Linked DNA regions of Homo sapiens: all the other regions are linked to region 2. Evidence: fine-mapped expression QTL. A gene starts in region 2. Each other region holds a variant in brackets. All regions are shown on one strand. Distances are from middle to middle. Region 1 overlaps MAD1L1 (mitotic arrest deficient 1 like 1). Region 2 holds the start of MAD1L1 (mitotic arrest deficient 1 like 1). Region 3 overlaps MAD1L1 (mitotic arrest deficient 1 like 1). Region 4 overlaps MAD1L1 (mitotic arrest deficient 1 like 1). Region 5 overlaps MAD1L1 (mitotic arrest deficient 1 like 1).

Region 1 (5,000 bases), 300 kb after region 2:
GTGCCGCCCGTCAGAGGGGTCTCCTGAGTGCGTGTGGGTGGCTGGATTCTGCATACTGGGTTATCTTAACCCCGGCTGTGAAAACTGGATGAAGTAGCAATCCTTTCAACCCCAAGAGTCTGTGATTCAGCCAGAGTTACAAGATGTCTCTTCATCCTCTGAGGTTTACAAGGTTCTCAGAAAACCTGTGAAGAGCTGCGCGGATCCTCTCCTGCCCCGGCCCAGCGGCAGGGCTGCCGCCTCCCTCTCCCCTGGGCCTGAGTGGGTGGATTTCCCCTCCCCTCCTCCTTCCCAGGAGAAGCACAGAGGGAGCGGCCAAGCGAGCCGTGTCTGCAAACCCCGCTTCCCTCTGCGGCGGCCTCTGCCATCGTGCCATGGGGCCGGAGGTCCCTGGTCCAGGTCAGCATGTCCATCTCCACTGGCCTCTTCCATGAGGGGGGTGGCAGGGCCAGCAGTTAGCTTGTGTGACGTGACGTCAGGGGGATGTCTTAGAGTCCGGGGTGGCACCAGGAGGGGTGAGGTCTCTTCCCTTCTTCCCCATCCTCTCCTCTCTCCCTGTTGGAGGCACATTCTGGGCTCTGGGACCACGATTGCCCATGGCTGATGAGCTCCAGCCCAAGTGAGGTCCCCAGGGTACAGCCCAAGCCAGGCCTCGCCGTCCTTCGGGGACTTGGAGAGCAGTGGCCCACAGCAGCCTGAGCTCTTGGGAGGCTGGAGGCTTACTGCGCCCGGTCTCTTCACCCCGTGGGGTGTGTCCACACCGGCCTCTCCTGAGAGCGTGGGGTGATCTGAACACAGGATGTGTTTCCCTGTTCCCCTCTGGGAGATAGGAGAGTGCGTGGGCAGAAGCCCCAAGGGTGGCAGGAACTCATTGCCAAAGGGGAGGAGGCCATTGCTATGCGTGGTGCTGGCCTGGCTTGCTGGGTCATGTCTGTGCCTGACATGACCCATGTCATGACCATGGTCATGTCTGTGCCTGACATGACCCATGTCATGACCATGGTCATGTCTGTGCCTGAGGGACCGGGTGCCCATCCAGTCTCACTGCCCCACAGCTCACAGCCACAAGCTGCAGAATCTCAGCACTTGGCGGGAGCCCTGGCCCGTGTGTGTGCGTGTGTGTGCGCCGCTGGCTCCAGCCCTGGCCTGTGTGTGTGTGTATGTGTGTGTGTATGTGTGTGCGTGCACCGCTGGCCCCGGCCCTGGCCCATGTGTGCGCGCGCCTCTGGTCCCGGCCCTGGCCCGTGTGTGTGTGCCTCTGGCCCTGGCCCGTGTGTGTGTGTGTGTGTGTGAGCGCCTCTGGTCCTGGCCCTGGCCCGTATGTGTGTGTGCGCCTCTGGTCCCGGCCCTGGCCCGTGTGTGTGTGCGCGCCTCTGGCCCTGGCCCGTGTGTGTGTGCGCGCCTCTGGTCCCGGCTCTGGCCCGTGTGTGTGTGTGTGTGCCTCTGGCCCCAGCCCTGGCCCATGTGTGTGTGTGTGTGTGTGTGTGCGTGTGTGTGCGCCTCTGGTCCCGGCCCTGGCCCGTGTGTGTGCGCCTCTGGTCCCGGTCCTGGCCTGTATGTGTGTGTGTGTGTGTGTGTGTGTGCGCGCCTCTGGCCCCGGCCCTGGACTGTGTCCGTGTGTGTGTGTGTGTGTGTGTGTGTGTGTGCCTCTGGCCCCGGCCCTGGCCCGTGTGTGTGTGTGCGCCTCTGGTCCCAGTCCTGGTCTCTGTGTGCGTGCGTGTGTGTGTGTGTGTGTGTGTGCGTGCGCGCCTCTGGCCCCAGCCCTGGCCCATGTGTGTGCACCTTTTCATATGTTTATCAGCTTTTTGGGTGTCTTTTTGGGAAGTGTCTGCTCACATGTTTTGCAGATTTTTAGAGTGGGTTGTCTGACATGCCCTTGGTTATTTCTGACATGCCCTTGGTTATTTCTGACATGCCCTTGGTTATTTCTGACTTCTTCGTATGTTCTGGATCTGAACCCTTTCTCAGAAATGTGATTTTCAAACAGCACCTCCTGCTCTGTGGGTGCCTTTCCACTGTTTCAGTGGATGAAGTTCTTAATTTCTATAAGGTCAGTTGTACTCTTTTTTTTTTCTTTTACGGCCAGCACTTCCTGAACCCTGTTTGAGTAACCTGTGTCTACTCCCAGGAGACAGAATGTGGTGGAATTGATGTTTGTGTGTGATGTGAGGTCGGGGTCTCAGGTGTGCAGTGACCCTGCACCTCCCTGCCGTGGGCGGCTGTTGTTTGTGTGTGGCGTGAGGTCGGGGTCTCGGGTGCGCAGTAAC[C/G]CTGCAGCTCCCTGCCGTGGGCGGCTGATGTTTGTGTGTGGCGTGAGGTCGGGGTCTCGGGTGCGCAGTGACCCTGCACCTCCCTGCCGTGGGCGGCTGATGTTTGTGTGTGGCGTGAGGTCGGGGTCTCGGGTGCGCAGTGACCCTGCACCTCCCTGCCGTGGGCGGCTGATGTTTGTGTGTGGCGTGAGGTCGGGGTCTCGGGTGCGCAGTGACCCTGCACCTCCCTGCTGTGGGCGGCTGATGTTTGTGTGTGGCGTGAGGTCGGGGTCTCGGGTGCGCAGTGACCCTGCACCTCCCTGCTGTGGGCGGCTGATGTTTGTGTGTGGCGTGAGGTCGGGGTCTCGGGTGCGCAGTGACCCTGCACCTCCCTGCTGTGGGCGGCTGATGTTTGTGTGTGGCGTGAGGTCGGGGTCTCGGGTGCGCAGTGACCCTGCACCTCCCTGCTGTGGGCGGCTGATGTTTGTGTGTGGCGTGAGGTCGGGGTCTCGGGTGCGCAGTGACCCTGCACCTCCCTGCTGTGGGCGGCTGATGTTTGTGTGTGGCGTGAGGTCGGGGTCTCGGGTGCGCAGTGACCCTGCACCTCCCTGCTGGGGGCGGCTGTCCCCTGCTGTGGGCGGCTGTTCCCTGCTGTGGGCGGCTGTCCCCTGCTGTGGGGGGCTGTCCCTGCTGCAGGGCTGCATGGTGCTTGTTGCTGGGGGTCGGTCACCCACCACAGGTCAGCAGGCTGGGCCTCCAGGCGCACTCCTCCCTCAAGGATGCCACACACATCCCGGCCCTGGGTTTCGTGGGAACATCAGGTTGCGAGGCGCATTCCTGAGCCACCCACGCTGATGCCAGGCTCCCTTGCCTTCCATCTCTGTGTGGTTGACCTTGTTTCTCTTGTGGCACGGGGCACCTTCCAGGCTGGTAGGGAAGAGATGGGAACATGGCCACACGGGCTCCCAGTCTCATCCCAGCCAGGAACCTCAGAGGAGAGGAAGCCTCCCTCCCGGGCACTGAGTGTGGAATTCTGGGAAGCACCGCACTTGGCTGAGCAAAGGCCGCATGTCCCCTCTCACCCTGTTCCTGTGGTTAGGCAGAAGGGACCCAGCAGGTGGCCAGGCCTTGTTCCTGCACCTGTCCACAGGGCACAGGGAAGGAGCCACTCCTTCCAGGAGAGATGGCTGCCAGGCAGGCTCAAGAAGACAAAAGAACTGAGCACTGTGCTGTGTGTGACCCGTGCTGTGTGTCTTCCTGGGCCATGGTGACCCATGCTGTGTGTGACCCGTGCTGCGTGTGTGCCTGGGCCATGGTGACCTGTGCTGTGTGTGTTCCTGCAGGGTGACTATGACCAGAGCAGGACCAAAGTGCTGCACATGAGCCTGAACCCCACCAGTGTGGCCAGGCAGCGCCTGCGCGAGGACCACAGCCAGCTGCAGGCGGAGTGCGAGCGACTGCGCGGGCTCCTGCGCGCCATGGAGAGAGGAGGCACCGTCCCAGCCGACCTTGAGGCTGCCGCCGCGAGTCTGCCATCGTCCAAGGAGGTGGCAGGTAGGCACCCCCCACCCCCGGTCCCTGCCATCCTCGACCTTCCGTGGGTAGGTCCATCCGTGCGCCTTTGGGGCAGCCTCAGGCGCCCCTGCCTGTCATCCCCAGAGGGTTTGTCCTCCCCTGTGGGCAGCCGGGTCTGGTGGTTGCTGGGGCAGAGCACCCTGGCCCCGTGTCCCCATGGCCCCGTGGGGTTGTGCAAACAGGTGGAGCCATCCGAGTCTGCAGGCAGCTGTGGAGAAGCAAGGGGCTGAAATTTCAGGCCCTTAAACTAATTCGTATCATTTGTCAGTTTATATGTACCCCATTAATCACAAGTAAATCCAGTCCTCCACGAAAACAAGTCCATCTCTCACCAGCTTAAGTGTGCTTCATGGCGTCCAGAGAGCCCTTTGAGGCCAAGGCCTGTGGCGTCCCAGGGAAGAATGAGGCCTCCATGAGGGCCAGCAGGGCCTGCCCACACCCTCCAGGTCTACATGAGGCCCACGGCCTTTGGAACGCCAGCCTATCCCCTGATGTGGGGAGGTGGTGCTGGGGTCTGCCCACGCCAAGCCTCGGAGGGTGCTGCCGGGGCTGTGTCGACTCTGCAGGGTGCCCCTGAAGGAGCAGGGCTGGGAGTCCAGAGTCACTGTGCAGTCTGCACCCCCAGCGAGGCTGTGGGGCTCAGGAGACCCCTGCCCCCTGTGTTGCTCTCTGCTGTTGGAGGGAGCTGGGCACTGCCCCACGCTCCTGGTTCTGGGGGGACCTGGGGGAGGGTTCCCTGTCCAGCCCTTAGCAGCAGCCTGGAGCGTGGCCCGGCGTCCCCTTGCTCCTGTGTTAGAGCCACCCGGCTGCCAGCCCCCTCCCTTGGGGGTGTCTGCAGGCTCATCTGTGGTGGGGCCTGGAGGCTGCTGCTTTCTGGCCTTTGGCATCTCGAGGTGATTTCAGACTCAGCTTTCATCCGATGATACCTTCTTCTGTTTCTTCCCACCTACTTGCCATCGCGCCCTGTACTGTGGGAGAGCATTCCCTGTGAGCATGCAGGTGCAGAGGTTGTGTGGCGGTGACTTGTCCGCTTCCCACAGCCCAGCACCCAGGCTGATGTATCAGGAGTGATTGTCCTCTGCCCCGCTCCTTTGTGGGGAGGGTCTTAGGTGGGGTCTTCCCTCCCTCTTGTGCCCCACCCCCATAAGCCAAGACTGCCCTGAGTCTGGGCGCACCCTG
Region 2 (5,000 bases):
GGCCTCAGCTTCTCAGATGTTAAGGCCCGCCATCTCCACCATGTGTCTTTATAGGATGTATAGATAGAGAAGGCCTGTGTTTACCTATTTGCACATTAGCTCTTTGCCTTGGTCTTGACATTTTATTTTTATTTCATCACTTTGTTGCATGTACTGTATTTTTGTAAAAAGATTCAGGGTGTAAATAAATAACACATTCACCATTTCTTCCATAGATCCCAGCTCTCCTGTTGGCTTCGTGCTTGGGGTAGATCTTCTTCACATATTCCCCCTGGAAGGAGCAACTTTTCTGTGCCCTGCTGACGTGACTGACCCGAGAACCTCACAGAGAATCCTCGAGGTGCTTCCTGGCAGGAGAGCAGATGTGATTCTGAGCGACATGGCGCCCAATGCCACAGGGTTCCGGGACCTCGATCATGACAGGCTCATCAGCCTGTGCCTGACCCTTCTCAGCGTGACCCCAGACATCCTGCAACCTGGGGGGACATTCCTTTGTAAAACCTGGGCTGGAAGTCAAAGCCGTCGGTTACAGAGGAGACTGACAGAGGAATTCCAGAATGTAAGGATCATCAAACCTGAAGCCAGCAGGAAAGAGTCATCAGAAGTGTACTTCTTGGCCACACAGTACCACGGAAGGAAGGGCACTGTGAAGCAGTGAGGATTTCTTGTGCCATTTTCATAATGGTCATTAGCTCCTTTTAAGCTAGAAACGTAGCCTGAGCTCCTGAAGAGTTCCTGGGAGATTTGAGCTGATTTTGGAGATGGAGCAGGACAAGTGGGGAGTCTCTCTCTCTCTTTCTCTCTCTCTCTTTTTAACCAAAAAGAGATGACAAAACTAAGTTCAGGGGCCATGGAAAATGAAAAAGTCCGCTATATTGTGATTTGGGAAGAGAAAGTTATCAAGAGAAAGAGGTGAGGATGGAAGGATGGAGAAAAACAGACTGTGGGAAGGATCAGAAGGAATCCGCCGAGGCAGGGATGGGTGTGCCCATGTGTGCCTTGACGGGACTTCATCTTATAGACTGTTAAACTGTCACACACAAACAGGCTTTCCACCCCTGCTCTGAGAGCACCACGCACAGATTTCCAGTTCTTAGTGTGGCTGTTTAAAGTAGAAAATCTGGGGGCTGGGTGAGGCCACTCATGCCTGTAAACCCAGGGCTTTAGAAGGCTGAGGCTGGGGGATTGCTTGAAGTCAGGAGTTCAAGACCAACCTGGGCAACATAGCAACACCCCCCATGTCTACAAAAATGAAAAACCAAAAAGCAAACCAAAAGAAAAATCTGAAATTTCCATCTGGGGATTAACTTCTGTCTTTCTGGTGAACAATATAGCAATTCACGCATTCTTCAAGCAGCAAAAGTTCCCGGAACAATTAGGGAAGACGTATGGTCTGAATTTATCCAGGCAGTGGGTCTGCTTTGGTTTTTGCTGGAAATTTATATCAGTGTCTGGGCTCCCAAGAACATAAATGTAATTGCCAAAGCAAGCAGTGATGTGGTGTGTTTATTTTCTTTTACTCATCTAGGAACTTGACGCAGCTTTATATTTAATAAAATAATAGAGATTGCATTATTTTAAGGTACTTTCATGCTTTGAAGTTTTGTTTTTTTTAAACTGGCTTCCTCAAAGCCATTTCCTGGAGGTGTACTCATCCCTCAAGAAGAGTTTGTTGACTATGATTAAATTCCAAGGACCAGTGGGGGAAGTCTGGAAACCCAGGAATCTCCATCAGGAATCTGGGGCTCTGTCCAGCTCCCCGAAGGAAACTGCGGGTCAGATGTTTTGATTTTTTTTTTTCTTTGAGAAACAGAATCTCACTCTGTCACCCAGGCTGGAGTGCAGTGAAGTGATCTTGGCTCACTGTAAGCTCCACTTCCCGGGTTCACGCCATTCGGCCTCAGCCTCCCGAGTAGCTGGGACTACAGGCGCCCATCACCACGCCCGGCTATTTTTTTTTTTTTTTTTTGTATTTTCAGTAGAGACGGGGTTTCACCGTGTTAGCCAGGATGGTCTCGATCTCCTGACCTCGTGATCCGCCTGCCTCGGCCTCCCAAAGTGCTGGGATTACAGGCGTGAGCCACCGCGCCCGGCCGCCAGATGTTTTGACTTTTCATTTTATTTCTGGTTGCAGTCAGGTTGTTAAGTCCAGGGACTCTTGCCCTACTCCACCTCGTTCTCTTATTCCATTTCATTCCCGGGGCACACAACTTGGAAGTCTTTCTCTGAAAGAAGGAAAATTCATTGCAGACCCTTAGGAACAGCATCTTCTTAGAGGGAAGCCAGGGGCTGGGCAGAGACGGGAGGAGGAGAGGAAGAGAATATGGAAACGAGTAAGGCACACTCTTCTCAGGAAGGCTCCAATTTGAAGGATAGACAAAGGTTACCATAATAATGGTGGGGCCTGACCTCACCCCATTGGATGCTGTGCCCTGGCTTGCAGAGCACTGGGAAGGTAGCCTAGTAGCATAAATTGCATTTCTAGTGGGCCCAGAAAAAAGCAAAATAACGGATTGATTCAAGCTGATACTGAGTAGCAAAATTTTGGGAAGAGTCAACGGTGCAAGTTTGTCCGAGGAGGCTGCCGTGGGCGCGGCTATTCCACACATTACGGCGCGAGGCGAAAGCCTTAGTGGAAGCGCGTCCTGCGCAAAGCCGGGGGGCCCCCGACTGCGCCTTGGCTCAGCCTTCGGTTCCGAGTCCTTTCCGTGCGGAGTCTCCCAGGGGTGGCGGCTCCGGGTGCGGACGCGGAGTCCCCAGGATCAGCCGGTGCGCAGACTCGGTTCTTTACGGCCCGATTGCCACGCAGGTCTCGCGAGAGCGCAGGCGCAAGTGTCGCGATAAATGGGCGCCGGCGGAGCGGAGGGAGATCCGAGCGGCGGCGGCAAGCTGGCTGCGAGCGGCTGAGGTAAGCGGCCCGGCTCGCGCGGGCGGCGGGGTCCCGGGGTCCCGGGGGTCCCGGGAATGGCAAGGGAGGGGCCGAGGGCCCGGACCGGGTGTGCTCGCCAGGGTGGGGCACAACGACCCAGACCCCGTGCCTCAGGACCCCGCGCCCGCCCCGTCTCCCATGGGCGCGCTCTCCTCTCTGTGCTCTCCCCTCCTCTCCCCACTCCCCTGTCCCCACTCCCCCTTTGGGCTGTGCTGGGGACAGCGGGCCCCTCGCCTGGGTCTCCGCAGCCGTCCCTTGTGCCAGGGCGGGCGGCCGAGGGGCGCGTGCTCGTGGTCCCAGCCCCGGGGTCCCGCTGCCTACCGTGTGGGTCCCCGGGCTAGGGTGCCGGCGCGCCGAGGAAGGGGCCTGAGCTGGCGCCTGGTGGAGAAGTCGGGGCTGCAGGGGCTCTTGGCATCCTGGTGGCTCGCGCCGGTCCGCTCTCAGGAAGGGGGCGTGTGGGCCCGGTTTCCCCTCGGGGATGGCAAGGGCCACCCTGATCTCGTTTGGGCAATGGAGGAATTGGGCTGTGGAGCCTCCTTCCAGGCGGGCCTGCCTCTGCGGGGCTGGCAGCCTGGGGAGCTCAGGCCTCTGCTTGCACCAGGCCAAGGTTCTTGTTAAATGGAAACTCAGAAACTGTGCAGCTGCAGAAGTTCTACCTTTGGCTTTTAAACGCGCTTGGCTGTTCCCTAGTTGTGGCTGGTGGGCCGGCCTGCCATGAGCCCATAGTAAGCGCCGGTGTTGGGGGTGCAAAGTTCTTTACTGCGGTTTGTCTTCAGCCTTCCAAAGCCAGACAGACCCAAGTTCCAATCTCCGTTCTGTAACTTTTTGAAGCTTCGGTTTCATCATCTCTAGAATCTGTGTAAAAAGACCTAATTCACCACCCTGTTGAGACTGAGCTTACAAATATAGTGCTGGTCAACCTGCAGCCGTATTCCCATCATCTAGCGGTGGAAGACTTGAGGGATATTGGCCCCGTTCCCCACAACTTTGCAAGTAGATTTCACTGTCATGAGTTTACAGATGAGGAAACTGAAGTTCAAGAAGTCTCGGTGCTCGGAAATGTCAGATACCTTTCTTTCTGATACCTAGTTGAAAATAGTAGTAGTACTTATTAATGTCACTAGAAATAAACAATGAAAATGAGCACAGCTGTGATGATCATCATCTTTACTGTCACTGTTGCATGCCTCGTTTCTGATTCCCAGAGGCCAGATTTTTTTTTTAATTAATTATTATTATTTTTTGAAACGGAGTCTTGCTCTGGCACCCAGGCTGGAATGCAGTGGCGCGATCTCAGTTCACTGCAACCTCCATCTCCTGGGTTCAAGAAAATCTCCTGTCCCAGCCTCCGGAGTAGCTGGGATTACAGGTGCACGCCACCACATCTGGCTTTAGTAGAGATGGGGTTTCACCATGTTGGCCAGGCTGGTCTCGAACTCCTGACCTGTGGTGATCTGCCCATCTTGGCCTCACAAAGTGCTGGGATTACAGGCATGAGCAACAGTGCCTGGCTTATGTTTATTTATTTATTTATTCATTCATTTATTTATTTTGAGACACTGTCTCACCCCGTTACCCAGGCTGGAGTGCAGTGGTGCGGTCTCAGGTCACTGCAACCTCTGCCTCCCAGTTTCAAGCGATTCTTGTGCCACAGCCTCCTGAGTAGCTGGGATTACAGGCGCACACCACCACACCCGGCTAGTTTTTGTATTTTATTAGAGGTGGGGTTTTGCCATGTTGGCCATTCTGGTCTTGAACTCCGGACCTGCCTCCGCCTCCCGAAGTGCTGGGATTAGAGGCGTGAACCACCCTGCCTGGGCAAGAGGCCAGACTTTGCTGTGAGTGCTCCTGGTAGGTAGTTTCAGGCATCAACTGACTGGATTCAGGAATTCCTAGAAACCTGGGAAAGCATCATTTTTGGTTTTGGGTGTGCCTGTTGAGGGTGTTTCCAGAGGAGATGAGCTTGGGAGTCTGAGTGGACCAGGTGCTGAAGATCCATCCTCAGAGTCAGGGGCAGTATCTAAGAGCCTGGGGGCCTGGAGAGGACAAAAACAGAGAAAAGGCGAATGTG
Region 3 (5,000 bases), 320 kb after region 2:
CTGACCCCACGCCAACCCCCAGGACGCCAGGGCCATCTCCAGGACCTGGGGGAGCAAGGGGCCTGGCTGCCGCTACAGCTCCCAGAAGGTAAAGCCTTTGGCCTCAGAGAGCCTCCCCCGACGGTTCCCTTCTCCAGGCCGGGCGTGCACGCGCGGATTCCTCCTCATGCAGAGCCCGTCTGCCCTGATGGATCCCCCACCCCACGCCACCCCAGGCCGCTTCCTCCGGGTGGAGTGCTCCTCAGCACTCAGGGGTCCTCCCTGCACCCACCCCGCCCAGAACCCTGCTCCTTGCCCCTCTCCTTCCAGAGCCCTGTGTCTGGCTGCTCCAATTACTGGAGCAGTTCCGTGTCCTCTTCCCGAGTCTCCTGCTATCTGAAGAGTTCATTACATAGGAATCCGAGGCCTCGCTGCCTACATTAGCAGGTTTTCATAGACTGCCACATCTCCAAAAGGGGAAAAGAGACAGGAGATTTAAAACTCTCGTCTTGCCGAAAGCAGACAGATTGACTCGAAAATGACCCAGTCAATAAAAGATGAGCTCTGGAAAGGCTTCCCTCTTCTCAGAGGGGGCTCGCCTGCCGGGGAGCTGAGGTTCTGCAAGCCTCGGTGGGAAATTAATCATGAACGCGGCATGCAAAGCGGCCGGAGCCCACACAGCCCCGCCCCCACGTCTCCCAGGACCTCGCCGCCGCCACCCCAGGCCTCTCTCCACGGACCAGCTGCTGGGCATGTTCCTGGAGGGAAGCTTCCGGAAACAGATGAGGTGGCCGTGTTCTGTGGTCACGTCTTGACTCGGCTGTGATATCGCTGTGGGGCACTGCTCCCTCTGGAGTGTTTCTGGCTCTGGGAGGTGCGTGCGCGGTGGGCTCCCTGCCTGCACAGGGGCCCTGGCTGTGGGCCTGTGAGGCTGGGTCTGCCTGGAGCTGGTGGGATGAGAGGGGAGTGCTCTGAGGACCGTTCCCCCACTGGTGCAGGGATGGGGAGCACAGGGTCCCGGTGGCTCTGATGCATCGGCGGCAGGGACCGCAGCCCTGCCTGTGCCAGGAGGAGCCGTGAGAGGATGGGCACCCCTTGCCCTCTGTGGGCTGGCATCTCCGTGCAGGGCCTGCAGTCTCTGCAGTGGCCACCCATTCTTATCTCTCCTGGTGCCCACACCTGCCGCCTGCCTCACCTCACCCAAACAGGAGGAGTCACCTCTGACCCCAACTGCTTCCTTTTACCAGAGTTTCTCAGCTCATGTTCCCCAAAAGGATAGGTTAAGTTTTCCTTTTGAGCCACACATGCCCCCATTTGCTGTCTGTCTCTCAGATGGCCATCCTTCATCCAGTCGACAGGGCTGGCCTTGCGGTTTCCACTGCTGACACACACGGAGCTGGCTGGTTCTGGGGTCTGTACCCGCACGCAGGGCCCCTGCCGCCATCTGGACCCCTGCCACCCCAGTTTCCCCCACTTCAGGATTTTGGGTCAGAAGGAAACTATCCCGACAGCTATGTGTACTCCTGCAGACTTCTGGGTTTGGCCATGGTTCCCGTCAGCCCCCAGACCCCCGACAAGTGTCTGAGGGGATGTGGAACCCAGCCCACTCCCACCACTTCTGCCCTGCAGCTGCATGGAGGGCGGGTTGGACAGGTGAGGCCCAGCCCCTGCCTTCAGGCAGCTCACACAGTGAGGGAAGCAGCCCTGCAAAGGTGGCCGCAGCTGGAAAGGCGTGTGTGTGCCGCAGAGGTTCAGACCCAGTCCAGGGGAGAGGGATAGGATGCCCAAGAGGGGCTTCATCTGGAGGTGACGCCGGACTGGAGAGGGTTGGGATGCCCAAGAGGGGCCTCATCTGGAGGTGACGCCAGACTGGAGACGGTTGGGATGCCCAAGAGGGGCCTGTTCTGGAGGTGACGCCGGACTGGAGAGGGTTGGGATGCCCAAGAGGGGCCTCATCTGGAGGTGACGCCGGAGTCTGGCCTTGCAGAAGTTCGCTGGTGAACATCGTCCCCTGGCAGAAGGCAAATGTGCCCGCCACATTGTGGCAGCAGAAATGAGCACCATGCGTTCTGAGTGTGCCTGGGGTGTCTGGGAGGACTGTGGACTTGTAGCGGCAGAGGACAGAACACCTGGGCTGCACACGAGTGACTGTGCTGGGCAATGGCGCTTCCCTTCCGAAGCTGGGCTCTGACTCTGCAAGTGACTGCGCCGGGGGCAGTGCTCCCCTTCCGAAGCTGGGCTCTGCGTCAAAAGAAAGACCCCTGGGGCCTGAGGAGGAGGGAGAGGAGGGTGACAGGAAGTAGAATTTGGACTCTAGTAAAGAAAGACCCCGAGCAGAGGTGGTGCCAGGGAGGGTTGGTGAGGACAGAGCGTTGAAACCTGGTGTCCAGCGGGTGTTGAGTGCTGAATCCAGGAAGGCCGAAGGCAACTCAAGTTGTCTGGCTCAAGGGGTGCGGGGGATGGAGGGAGAGGCGGCCGCCCAGGAGCGGGAACTGTGGGAGTAGCACTTAGACATGAGGCACGCCTGCAGTTATGAATCCTCACGGCTAATCAGGGCTGTGGGCACAGGCAGCTGAGGCCACTTGAAAGGACTGATGCGCCCAGACCAGGCCCCGCCAGGGCCTCCGGTCACGGGATGGGTGCAGGGTTGGGGGTCAGGAGAGAGACACTGTGGCCCCACATCGCCATGCTGGAGCCCATGTCCCGCCTGACTGGCGTCACAGGGAGCCCTCTCCCTGCTTTCTCATCGTCGGTTTCCCCATCCAGAAGGTGGGGACAAACGTAGCCATGCTCCCCAGGGCGGGGCCCGGCTGGGATGGGTGCAGCGAGGCTGCGTGTTCCTGCCCCGGACAGGCACCTACTCAAAGCCCGAGCAGGCTCTCACCTGACGAACGTGTTCCAGGTGGAAGAGAGGCCAGGACACGGGCAAACACGCGATCTCAGATGCTCGTGAGCTCTAGGGAGAAAGCAAATGTGGGGTGCCC[A/G]GAAGACCACTGGTGGGGGTGGCCCAGGGAGGCTTTTCTGAACTGAAGCCTGAATGACCAATGGAGACAGCTGCTCAGCCCCCAGGGCAGTGCCCAGCGTGGGCTCCAGCTTTGGCTCCGCGGCGGGTGTTCAAGGGGTCCCCTCAACAGTGCTGGCATCGCAGAGGTGGCCCTGTGCTGACGCGTCGGACGGCTGCTGCGACCAGCCCTCCCTGTAGTCCTGTTGCTGGCCAGAGACCGTGGAGCTGGATTCTGGCCTCCTGCAGGCATCTTTCTGTCCATTCAGCAGGTGCCACGTCCCCCCACATATGCAGGGTGTCCGGAGGATCACTGACACGGGGGCCAATGTCCCTCCTTCCGCCAAGGTTCCGCTGGGCCTCTGCTGCCGAAGGACCCCATGGGGGCTGTGGAGCCTGGTGCCGGGGGAGGGGGCTGTCCCTTGGGGTTCAGCTGCTGTGTTCTCGGTGCTGGGGGAGGATTCTTCTCCAAATATGATATCCGCGCCCGCCTGTCACCCCAGGACTCTCCCACCCCGTAATCTGGTGGCTGTAATTGCTGGTGTCTTTTCATATCAGTTTTGTGCAAGGTGACAAGCTGCTTGCTGGAGTAAGTCGTTAATCACACAAGAGGTGCCCTGTTTGAAAGCTGCACAGAGCTCACCCAGCCAGCGCCTGCCAGGTGGTGGGCCAGGGAGCGGCTCCTCCGTGTGTAATTCCAGGGCGAGTGTCTTCTCACTGGAGCAGAGTGTGCAGTTTCTGCCCAGCAGGGGAACTCATGGCTCATCATGGAGGCCGTGTCTCAAGGGCCGTCTGGTACCAGCAGAGTTGAAGCGACCATCTTCTTGGGGCAGCAGCAGGCCCTGGCTGGCAGGTGGTGGCGTCCCATCCTCCTGTTGCCAAAGCCAGTTCCTGGGGACCATGATGCCTGCCAGCCCCTCGGGCTGGTCTCCGGGAATTTGGATTTGGGGCCGGCAGCCCCTGGGATGAGCCAGGTGGGGCGCTGTGGGGCATGCTGGGGTACGGTTCTCACGGGTGACATCCCGGGGGGTCCCGGCCAGCCTACAGGTGCGTCCCCACCTCCTACAGTCTCTTGCAGAGCCAGCCAGGACCCGGATACAAATCGCACAGCCATAACCACTGCAATGCCCCATGCCCATGGCTGCTAATAAAATTGCATCAATATTTGATGCCTAATTATTAAATATTTAAAAATGTAAAACTGAAATAGTTTAGAAGCTTGCAAAACATGAATAATTCAGTCCCGGGAAGCCTGGCTCGGCATTGGGCCTGGGCAGGACCGGGGCTGCCAGTGCCTGCCAGGGCCCAGAGTACTCTCTGCAGGGACACTCGGGCGGCTCCCCCAGCCCTGGGCCTCCACTGGCTTCCTGTGTCCGCAGCGTGCAGGGGATCCTTGGTCGTCTCTCGTCGAGGTCAGACCTCGGCCTGATGTGGAGGCCTCTGCGTCACCTACTAGTACACCACGCCGGTGTCGGGCTCCTTCAGAGGCTGGTCCCGCTGCTCCGAGTCTGGGCACGTTCCCTCCTGCCCTGTGTTCCCACTGGCACTGAGCATCTGAGAGTCATCTCTGACCCATCAGACCCATCCTAGAGGGAAGATCTGGAGATGCCAATGCTGGCAGCCTCCCAGAAACAGTCCAGCAGGACCCCCTGGGGCCGCTGCTCATGCCAGGCGCCCAGCCGCCGCCAGGGAGACATCTAACGAGAGGTGGGAAATAGACACTTGGGGGAGCCAGGCCGTGTGGTGGGGGTCATGAGAGAAATGCATGCTGGGGGAGTTTCATAATGTTGAGAACAGAGACACGGCTCTGCTACTTCCGGGGAGTGAGAACCAGTCACTTGTAGAAGACCAGAAGTCAGAACGGATTCAGGCTTCTCCACAGCAGTGCTGAGCACTTGAGACCTGAGGGCGATGCCTTCAGCACTGAAAGAGAGGCCGGGTGCGGGGCTCACACCCGTCATCCCAACACTGTGGGAGGCACACATGAGGCCCGCAGGTCAACAACAGCCTGGGCAACATA
Region 4 (5,000 bases), 360 kb after region 2:
CGTGGCAGGCGTATGTTGGGTTCAGTGTGGCAGGTGTTACGGTGGGTTCAGCGTGGCAGGTGTATGTTGGGTTCAGCATGGCAGGTGTTACGGTAGGTTCAACGTGGCAGGCGTATGTTAGGTTCAGCGTGGCAGGTGTTACGGTTGGTTCGGCATGGCAGGCGTATGTTGGGTTCAGCGTGGCAGGTGTTACGGTGGGTTCAGCATGGCAGGCGTATGTTGGGTTCAGCGTGGCAGGTGTTACGGTAGGTTCATCGTGGCAGGCGTATGTTAGGTTCAGCGTGGCAGGTGTTATGGTCGGTTCAGCGTGGCAGGTGTTATGGTCGGTTCAGCGTGGCAGGCATATGTTGGGTTCAGCGTGGCAGGTGTTATGGTCGGTTCAGCGTGGCAGGCATATGTTGGGTTCAGCGTGGCAGGTGTTACGGTGGGTTCAGTGTGGCAGGTGTATGTTGGGTTCAGTGTGGCAGGTGTTACGGTGGGTTCAGCGTGGCAGGCATATGTTGGGTTCAGCGTGGCAGGCATATGTTGGGTTCAGCGTGGCAGGTGTTACGGTGGGTTCAGCGTGGCAGGCGTATGTTGGGTTCAGCGTGGCAGGTGTTATGGTCGGTTCAGCGTGGCAGGCTTATGTTGGGTTCAGTGTGGCAGGTGTATGTTGGGTTCAGCGTGGCAGGCATATGTTGGGTTCAGCGTGGCAGGTGTTACGGTGGGTTCAGCGTGGCAGGAGTATGTTGGGTTCAGCGTGGCAGGTGTTATGGTGGGTTCAGCATGGCAAGCGTATGTTGGGTTCAGCATGGCAGGTGTTACGGTAGGTTCACCGTGGCAGGCGTATGTTAGGTTCAGCGTGGCAGGTGTTACGGTCGGTTCAGCGTGGCAGGCATATGTTGGGTTCAGCGTGGCAGGTGTTATGGTCGGTTCAGCGTGGCAGGCATATGTTGGGTTCAGCATGGCAGGCATATGTTGGGCACCAACTAGGCCGGATGTGACACATCGTGAGCTGCCACCTGCACAGCCTTCCTGCCGACAGTTCTGGGCAGCGGCTCGCATCTGGGGTCAGTCACTCTCCCTGTCTCGGTTCAAGGTCAGGCTTGTTCTGCCGTGTCTGGGCCTCCCACACCTCACCTACCAATGTGGACTCCGGGTTGGCACGGCAGGGGCAGGGGAGGCACGGGCGAGGCACCCCTTGGCTTATGAAGTGCTCCAGCCAGCCGCCTGTTGGACCCCGTTGCTTCCTGGGCTCACAGCCTGCCTTGTGGGACGAGCCTGGGTCCTCCGTCAGCAGCTGGACCTGAACCTGCCTGCCCCATGGAGGCACTTGCGGGAGCCCAGTCTAGGTGTGGTGTGGCATCACCTCCTGCAGGGACAGTCGTGATGTGTTCCATGGAGCCCACGCACGTGATCTCCATGAGGCTGTGGTCCTCGGCCCCCTCAACCCGTGCTAGTGTGACAGTGCTGATTGACAATCGTAGCTCATTACCGACGCAGGCTAATTAAATTACCCTTCGGCAGCTGGAGATGGATGGCACAGCCAGGCTGGAACATGGTTATGTTCCGTTTTGTCACGTTTTTCAGTGTTTTTTCCCGGGTCCCTGTGATACTGAGGTTGGAGAGAAGGGGAGGCAGCAAAGGCGCTGGGAAGAGGGCCCTGGGGAGGTCACCTGCTCCCAGCTGCACGTGGGCTGAGCTCTTGCAGGCCATCGCTGTGCCCAACCCTGGGCTGGGGATTTAAGGAAACCTGGGGAGTTTAGGAACCTGGACTTGGTTCTTGCCCTTGAGAGCCTATAAGGTGGAGTTCAGGGAGAGCTAAGAGCCTGCGCCGAGGTAGATGCTGGGAACTCAGAGAGGCCTCTGGGAGAGGCTGTGGGAGGGGGTCCCAGGCAAGGGGTGCTCTCCACGTGGGCTGACTGCTCCTTCCCTGGCGTTCCCCCGGGCCTCTGTGGCCCCCACAGCAGCGTGTGTGCCTTCTCCTTGAGACCCAACCCCGCCCCATGCCGGCAGCCATGGGGGCGGGCGATGGTGCCTGGGCATGGATCGTTGCTCGGATGTTCCCGTCCCGGGCCTCACCGTCCACGTGTGGCCTGGACCAGTTGCGTCGGTGCCATTCGGGCCCCACCCCAGCCTGCCGAGCCAGAGCCTGCCTTTCACAGAGCCTTGGGGGAGTCCTACACACGCGAGGGTTTGGGCTGTGCCGGGCTAGCTTTCTGCCTGGCGCGGTGAGGCGGCGCTTCCGTGCTCAGCTTCGTCCGTGTGGGGAAGAGGCCAGGTTCTCCATGCAGAGGGTTGGTGTGCCAGGGCTTGCACCGCTGGGCCCCTGTGTGGGGAGGTCACACCTTCAGCTCCTTAGCTGACATGCTGGTCTTCTGGGCGTTCCCCTGGTGGTCGTCACTGCGTCCTGTTGGCCCCTTGGTGCTGAGCCGCATCCCCAACTGTGAGAACTCTCGCCTCTGGTTAAGGCTGTGAACACGCAGTGCGTGTCACTCCTACCCGGCATGGGCTGTGCTGACTTCCAGGCAGGCCGCAAGGGTATCGCATGACGCGCTGGAGAAATCCAAGCCTAATCCCAGGACCCCAGGATGATGCTCCATCCCTGGAGGGACCTCCAGGAGCTCCCTTCCCCACCCCCTGCTGAGCCTGTACTTTCTTTGTGTAAATTATCCGTGGGGTGGGGTGGGTGGGAGGCCTCGCTGGGGAGGACAGACATGGAGGGCCCCACTCCAGCAGCACGCAGCCCGGGAGGCGCGGCCTGCGTGGGAGCAGCCCGGGAAGCGTGGTGTGTGCTGGGCGGCAGCAGCCATGGAAGTCCACGCTGCCTCCACAGTACCCAGGAGCTGGGGAGGCAGTGACTTGAAATCTCAGAGCCAATTCCTTAAAAATCCAGAAAGTTCTAACTGATTTCGGTTATCAGCAGGTGGGGCT[T/C]GGCTCCCTGTTCTGCCTCAAGGTTATCTTGGCCAAATTGTCCACCCCAGGGGCCACTGTGGGGTCAGGAGTGCTGGTGTCTGGGGGGCCACAGTGCACCTCGCTGGGCTGAATGGCAGGGTGCAGGAGGGCCCACTCTGAGCGGGCACGGCAGGGACAGTGCTTACAGAGGTCAGTAGGGGAATTACTGCTGGCGTCTGCTCAGCGCCATGTGGGGCAGGGCAGGGCACTGGCCACACAGAGGACAGATGTGGAGGGCCCCTCAGAGACGGTTGTCGCCCCGTATTAGGGAAGACGGGAGAAGCGAGCACAGACACTGCTCTAATTATGTGGCTCTCATCTGGGCAGGGACTGCCTCCGATGCATCGCCATTTATTTTTAATAAGTCGTTGGAACAACTTCAGCTCCAATTATTGTCCCAGAGCTGATGGCAGGGGCCAGTGCTCAGCCCGTCCAGTCCCTCCAATGAGGGACTGTGTCACCTCCCTGTGCCACCCCTCCCATCCCCTACAGCCACCCTGCAGGAGCTCTGCCCCGGAGGCCAGGAAGCGTGGCCCTTCTCCCTGCCTGCAGGAGGCCTCAGGCGCAGGTTCCTGGAATGGAAATTGGGCCCGAGCCACCGGTAGAATCTGGCAGAGTGCTGCTGAGATGTGCAGAAGCCTCCGCGCCCCATGGCCCACCTCGCTCCTACTCACTGCACACCTGCAGTGGGATGCATGGCCCGCTTTGCACTCTGCAGAAGATTGGGCGAGCAGAAGGGCCAGATCTGTCCCAATTCCTGCGGCCCCCAGAGGAAGCTGCTGCCACCGCCTCATCCAGACCTGGAGCTCAGGCTGCAGTGCCGCCTTCCATGCTGGACCCGCTTCTCTCCTCTACATCTTCCGGGGGGGTCCTGCGGAGGCAGCCAGCACCTCTTCCTTGTCCCACACTTCCTTGTCCCGGCATTCCCCTCCTCCATTAGCCCCGAAGGCCTCTGGAGCTTGGGCTGGGCATGAGCTTCATGTGTGTCCCTGGCATGTGGTCAGTGATGCCAGGGGAGGCCTACGGTGCCCATGTCTGTGGCACTGACCGTGCCATCCATCTCACCAGCTTCTGCCTGCCTCTGTCTCCCACTTCGCCCCAGCTTGGCCCTAGATCTCCAAGTACTGCAGCCGACCTCAGCCCCTCACCCACTGGGCCAGCAGGTGCTGCTGTGGTGACCCACTCTGCGGTCAGGAGCCCAGCGGGCCCTGTAGTGAGTGCTGCCCACTACCTCCCCTACCTCCGAGCTGCACCTCCCCATCCCTACTGCAGGAGGACCGCTGTGGGCATGGAGAGCAGGCCAGCACAGTGAGACGCCTGCAGGAGCCTGGCCCAGCCAGCGCTGGCAGCTGAGCTGCCCATCTCTCCTCCTTGGCCCTCACCGGGCCCTATGTCGCTGCCTCCTGCTGCTTCCCCAGTCATGGTACACCCTCACTGAAGGCCCTCAGGGCTCCCGTCAGCCCGTGGAACAGATCTAGTTGGTTTTCACGATGTTCCCTGCCCTTCACCCCTGCCTGCCCCCAACGCTCCCGCCAAGCAGGACTGCTCTGGGGCTGGCCGGCAAGAGGTGCCATGGCCTCTGCGTTGCCTGCCTGTCCGCAGCCTCCCGTGGCGTCTCACACCAGCAGCTTCTCTGTAGCGCTCCCTGAGCCTCCTCTTCCCCACTTAAGACCTCTCCTCAGCACAGTGCACCCTCGTGTCTCTGCCCCAGAGACTGGAACCGTCTGGAGGGTGGAGCTCGCTCTCATCTCTTGCTTCAGCCCTTTGTTCCTGGGAGCATGTTACGGCCTCAGCCTGCAGTGGGGGCACAGGGAGCTTTACAGAACCAGTTAGGGTTCCAGGAGCAGGCTCTGCAAGGCTCCACCCTTGTCTTGGAGGGCAGAGGCTGTCGGGACCCACAGCGCAAGGGCCTAGGCGTCTATCTCCTCCCACCTGGGCACCTGGCTCCCAGAGCGCACCCGGGCTCTGCACCACCAACCTGGGCACCTGGCTTCCAGCATGTACTGAGGCCCTATACTCCCAACCCAGGCACCTGGCTCCCAGTGTGCACCCGGGCGTTCTGGCCC
Region 5 (5,000 bases), 340 kb after region 2:
GCCTCCCAGACCTTCCTGCGCCCCATCTGGTTGATGTGGAGGGATCGCCTGCTGGATATGGGCCTTTAGAGCATGTTCATGAGGGCTGACACTGGGCATGCAGCCTCACCTCCCCAAGTTTCAGTCTCCTCACCTGTGGAGTAGAAGTAACTGTGGCTCACTTCGGAGGCTGCAAGAGGCAAGTCTCATAAGTGCCACCTGTGGAGCTGGGGAGGGGTCATGTTGCACCGGGATCCCTGTTGGCTGGTTCAGCTCCAGCCCACGGTGCACCCGTGCTTCTCCCAGAGCTGTGACTAGCTCTGCCGGCCCTGTGTGTCCTGGTCCCTGCAGACCTTCTGGAGGGCCTGCAACATTTAGGGAGCTTTCAAAGGCTCCCTGTAAGCCGACTCTTCCCAAGTCCTCCTCCGAGCTGCCCTTCACTGGGTGAGGCCGTTGGCCTCCTGAGAAATCCTCCCCCTTGGGTTCCAAGAAGACAGCGCTAGAGCTGCCAAGTCTTCTGGCAGGAGCTCTGACCAGGAGATCAGCATCAGTCCTGCCCCATCCACCTGTCATTCCTGCCTCCTTTGTATCCAGGACACCAAGCTTGGTGACAGGAGAGGCACTTGTACTGTTCGCAGCAGCTCCACGCCCCCAGCTCAGGGCCTGGCTTATGGAGAGGGCAGTCTAGGGCTCTGCCAGACAGACAGAAAAACAGGTTTCAGTGGAGCAAAAGGGAAGAGACAAACAGTGAACAGACAACAGCCAACCTGTAGGGCCAGGGCTCATGTTGGCACCTCTGCCTGCAGATGGTCACTGACTCCTTGGGGCCATGCAGCGGTGGCCCTGGTCTCCACTGTCCAGAGGAGAGATAAGAGACACTGTGGAGTCACCTTGTCCCGGGCAGCTCCTGACCCTGGTGTGCAGCCTTGGCCAGGCCACTGCACTCCTGTGAGACTCAGTTTCCCCATCTGTCATGAGGAATGTGGTCTGGGTGCTCCCTGGGGGCCCTGACCCTGGCCTCCTGGCTTCAGAAAGGCATCCTCAGGGGGCTGAGCATCACTAGGTGTGCCCAGGAGGGTCTTCCCTGAGCTACCCTCCTGAGATAGGGCCACGGAGGGCAGAGGCCAGTGTGGGAGGGCAGGGAGAGCAGGGAGACAGGCCCCCTGCCCCACCCACTCCACCTGGGGGCTGGCATACGTGGCTCCCGTGCTCCTGAAAGATCTCGCCAAACCCCAGCCTCCTGGCCATGTCATTTATTTTATCAGATTTTCCCCCAAATGATTCTTCAGGCAGAAAGGGGGCTGCAGACAGAGTTAGAAATAGCCGAAGCCGTTTCCAGTCAAGCGGGTTCCACAGATGTGTGCTGGGATAATTGAGGGTTTGCCGCACAGTCCCCCGCCACTCTGCTTCCCATCCCAGCCAGGACTTCCCATCCCAGCCAGGACTTCCCATCCCAGCCGGGACCAAACCTCTTGTTGCCGCGTGGGTGGAGGGAGCTGGCTGCCTGGGCTGCCGTTTGGGGGAAAGGCAGGCAAATCTCAGCTCCAGCTCTTCCCAGCGGGAACCTGCTGCCTCTGCTCCTCTCCCTCCTGAGAGGGGATAGAGATTCCAGAGTCCCTAGAGCTTCCTGGGAAGGCCATACTCTGCCTGGGCCTGGAGCGGGGAGGCTCAGCTCCTGGTCTCTCCATCCCGGCTGCACTCCTCCCAGTGGTTCTCACGGAATTTTCCCCACCTCCCTTTTCCCCTCTTCTCAAAACCCAGGGAAGGAAGCCTTCTGTTACGAGAGGGAGAAAATCAGTGGTAAGAAGAAGTGGAGTGACCAGGCCGGGGACACAGAGCAAATGCAGTTTGGGGCAAAACCGTGAGCTTCTGGGATCTGGGAGACACACTGGTTCCAGCAGGCTCCTCATTCCTTGCTGTCCAGGGCCTTCCCCGGCTCAGAGGCCTGCAGGGTGGGCGTCAGGGCCAGAGGC[G/T]TGGACGGCACAGATTCCGGAACTGCACAAACATGTGGCGATGTCGACCTACCGGGTTTGTCATATGGATGAGGGGGAAAGGTATACAGGTCCAGCCTCCCCGATTCGAAAACCTGAAGTCGGGAATGTTCCAAAATCCACAGCTTTTTTTATTGTGGGTCTGTCACTCAAAGGAAATGCTTAATGGAGCGTTTCCGATACCAGATTTTCAGATTAGGGATGAATATTTGCATGAGATGCTTACTCAACCAGTAAGCACGTAATACAGATATTCTGACAACCTGAAAATCTGGAAATCCCAGACACTTGGTCCCAAGCGTTTCCAATAAGGGATACTCAGCACTCACCTGTGTGTATATGTGTAAGTCTAGTACGGTCTCGCTTTGCCAGATGACAGGGATGCATGCTGAGGAACGTGCTGGTGGGCAGTGTTGTCTTTGCGGGAACTTCCTAGAATGACTTGTACGAGCCTGGGCCGTGCAGCCTCCCGCACCCTTGGGCCGCATGGTTTAGCCGGCTGCTGCCAAGCTGCAAAAGTGTGCAGTGCGTGACTGTGCTGAATGCAGTAGACCACCGTGGCGCAGTGCTAAGCATCTGCGTGTCTGTACGTGTTTAAATATGGAAAAGGTGCCATAAACATGATGTATGAAGGGTGGAAGACGGTGCACCTGCGTAGGGTGCTCACCGTGAACGGAGCTCGCAGGGCTGGCGGGTGCTCTGGGCGAGCTGGTGAATGAGGGTGAGTGAGTGTGAAGGCCTAGGACATGAGTGTGCACAACTGGAGACTATAAATGCCGTACCACTTAGGCTACACTCAACTATTAAAAATACTGTTCTTTTCTTCAATAATAAATGAATGGCTGGGCACAGTGGCCTGTGCCTATAATCCTAACATTTGGGGAGGCTGAAGTGGGGGGATCGCTTGAGCCCAGGAGTTCAAAACCAGCCTTGGCAACATAGCAAGACCCTGTGTCTACAAAATATTTAAAACTTAGCCAGGCGTGGTGGCGCCTGCTTATCGTCCCAGCTACTCCAGAGGCTGAGGCGGGAGAATTACTTGAGCCCCAGGAGTTAGAGGCTGCGGTGAAAACTATGATCGCGCCACCGCACTCTAGCCTGGGTGACAGAGTGAGATCCCATCTCTAATAATAATAAGAATAAAGTTTGTTGTAACTTTTTGAGTTTATAAACTTTTTAATTTTATTTATTTATTTGAGACAGAGTCTTGTTCTGTCACCAGGCTGGAGTGCAGTGGCGCGATTTCGGCTCACTGCAACCTCTGCCTCCCTGGTTCAAGCGATTCTCCTCCCTCAGCCTCCTGAGTACCTGGCATTACAGGGGTGCGCCACCACACCCAGCTAATTTTTTTGTACTTTTAGTAGAGACGGGGTTTCACCATGTTGGCCAGGATGGTCTCAATCTCCTGACCTGGTGATCCTCCCTCCTCGGCCTCCTAAAGTGCTGGGATTACAGGCGTGAGCCACCGCACCCAGCCTATTAAAATTTGTTTTGTATAACACTTAGCTTAAAGCACAAGCACATCCTACAGCTATAGAAAAATGTTTTTGTATAGCAGCCTTCCTGGGAAGAAGAAATAGCCCCGCACCCCTCGTCCTTGTGCTGGCCCGGGGTGTCGCTTCTGTGCACCCTTTTTTCCCCTCTGCCCATCCTTGCTGCCCCTGCCGGACCTCAGCAGGGGAAGGGGAGGTGGCGCAGAGCCCGCTTTCTGGCGTCTGTCTGATCCCGCCGAGGTCCCGCACAGAGCCCGCTGCTGGCGTCTGTCTGATCTTGCTGGGGTCCCGCATTCTCACTGTTGCATGGACTGTGGAAATCCCAGACAGGAAGGCTGTGCACCTCCCCAGGAAAAATGAGAACATGGGCGTCAGACAGGGTCCAGACTCCTCTACCACAGCAGGTTGGCCCTGGGAAATGACTTCTGGCCTCAGCTCCCCAAGGACAAAGTGGGGCCCGTGAGCACCCCTTCTCAGGTGCTGAGCGATGGAGAGCTGATAAAACAGCACAGGTGGCCTTGGTTTCGGGGCTCCCTCCTCCTCTCCCCGACATACCTGTAGTGGCCGGCACAGCCTGGGCCTCCGTGGAAACTGGCAGGATGGGCTTGCCTGGTGTCTTTGCCTGTTATGTTGCTATAAAGGAATATCTGAGACTGGGTGGTTTCTAGAGAAAAAGGAGTGTATTTGGCTCACAATTCTGGTGGCTGCTAAGTTCAAAAGTGGGCACGTGTGCACCTGGTGAGGGTCTCAGGCTGCGTCCACTCATGGCGGGAGATGAAGAGGAACCGCCCACTTGGGCAGAGATCACATGGCAGGAGGCCAAAGGGGTGGGGTGCCAGGCTCCTTCTAACAACCAGCTCTCATGGAAACAGAGAGAGACCTCACTAATTCCCTCAAAGGCAGTACCAGGCTGTGGGTGAGGCCTGTGACCCCATGACGCAGACACCTCCTCCCCATAGGCCACACTTCCAACATTGGGGATCCCATTTCAATATGAGACTTGTCAGGGACGTACCAACAGTACCCACACCAGAACACGTGGTCCTGGGGTGAGACCCTCCCGGGGATCCGAGCCCACCATACCCACACCAGACAGAGCGTGTGGTCCAGGAGTGAGACCCTCCCACGGATACATGCCCCTCCCAGGAGATGATTCCCCATTCTTGCCATAGAGAGGGGCCAGGAAGGCCCAGGTCCTGTGTGTCTTGAGAGTGGAGGCAGCTCCACCTCCCAGCTGCCTTCACAGCCCTGTGGGTGGGCAGCCTTCAGGGCACCACCAGCCTGGGGCCCAGAGCCCAGCTGTTGCTGTGGCCCCTGACGAGCTGTGGCAGCAGGCCCCCCAGCTCTGAGCTTTGGAGTCTCATGGGTGGCTGGGCCTCTGCCTGGGTGGGGTGAGGGGAAGGAATTAGCTGGGTCTGGAGCCACCATGCTTGCTTAGAAGGTGAGGAAGGGCCAAGCCACAAACATGGCAGGCTCAGCTGACAGCAGCATCCGGCCTGCAGAGGGGACGTGGCCCAGGTCCTGCATGAGTCAGCCC

What was found.
Region 1: its variant is fine-mapped to the expression of MAD1L1 in whole blood (INTERVAL, PIP 0.92).
Region 3: its variant is fine-mapped to the expression of MAD1L1 in whole blood (TOPMed, PIP 0.96).
Region 4: its variant is fine-mapped to the expression of MAD1L1 in whole blood (TOPMed, PIP 0.93).
Region 5: its variant is fine-mapped to the expression of MAD1L1 in whole blood (TOPMed, PIP 0.90).

Annotation. Positions count from the first base shown.
Region 1 is chr7:1,935,487-1,940,486 of GRCh38, reverse strand. MAD1L1 (mitotic arrest deficient 1 like 1) reads left to right here. Exons shown (of 19, transcript NM_001013836.2): 17 at 3,590-3,800. Among named protein-coding and RNA genes, the nearest start is that of MIR4655, 94 kb to the right of the region's middle. RefSeq lists enhancers at 9-98, 1-522, 519-568. The variant C/G (reference allele first, on the strand shown) is at 2,268.
Region 2 is chr7:2,230,780-2,235,779 of GRCh38, reverse strand. It overlaps MAD1L1 (mitotic arrest deficient 1 like 1), which reads left to right and starts at 2,835. Exons shown (of 19, transcript NM_001013836.2): 1 at 2,835-2,908. It overlaps MRM2 (mitochondrial rRNA methyltransferase 2), which reads left to right. Exons shown (of 3, transcript NM_013393.3): 3 at 216-1,585. The coding sequence ends at 658. RefSeq lists enhancers at 1,450-1,982, 2,717-2,846, 2,632-2,926 and silencers at 2,561-2,939, 2,917-3,336.
Region 3 is chr7:1,908,573-1,913,572 of GRCh38, reverse strand. The region is part of intron 17 of MAD1L1 (mitotic arrest deficient 1 like 1); the gene reads left to right. Among named protein-coding and RNA genes, the nearest start is that of MIR4655, 67 kb to the right of the region's middle. RefSeq lists enhancers at 1-624, 625-1,258, 1,436-1,936. The variant A/G (reference allele first, on the strand shown) is at 2,964.
Region 4 is chr7:1,866,147-1,871,146 of GRCh38, reverse strand. All of the region lies in intron 18 of MAD1L1 (mitotic arrest deficient 1 like 1), which reads left to right. Among named protein-coding and RNA genes, the nearest start is that of MIR4655, 24 kb to the right of the region's middle. The variant T/C (reference allele first, on the strand shown) is at 2,914.
Region 5 is chr7:1,889,691-1,894,690 of GRCh38, reverse strand. All of the region lies in intron 18 of MAD1L1 (mitotic arrest deficient 1 like 1), which reads left to right. Among named protein-coding and RNA genes, the nearest start is that of MIR4655, 48 kb to the right of the region's middle. RefSeq lists enhancers at 3,316-3,816, 3,817-4,317. The variant G/T (reference allele first, on the strand shown) is at 1,953.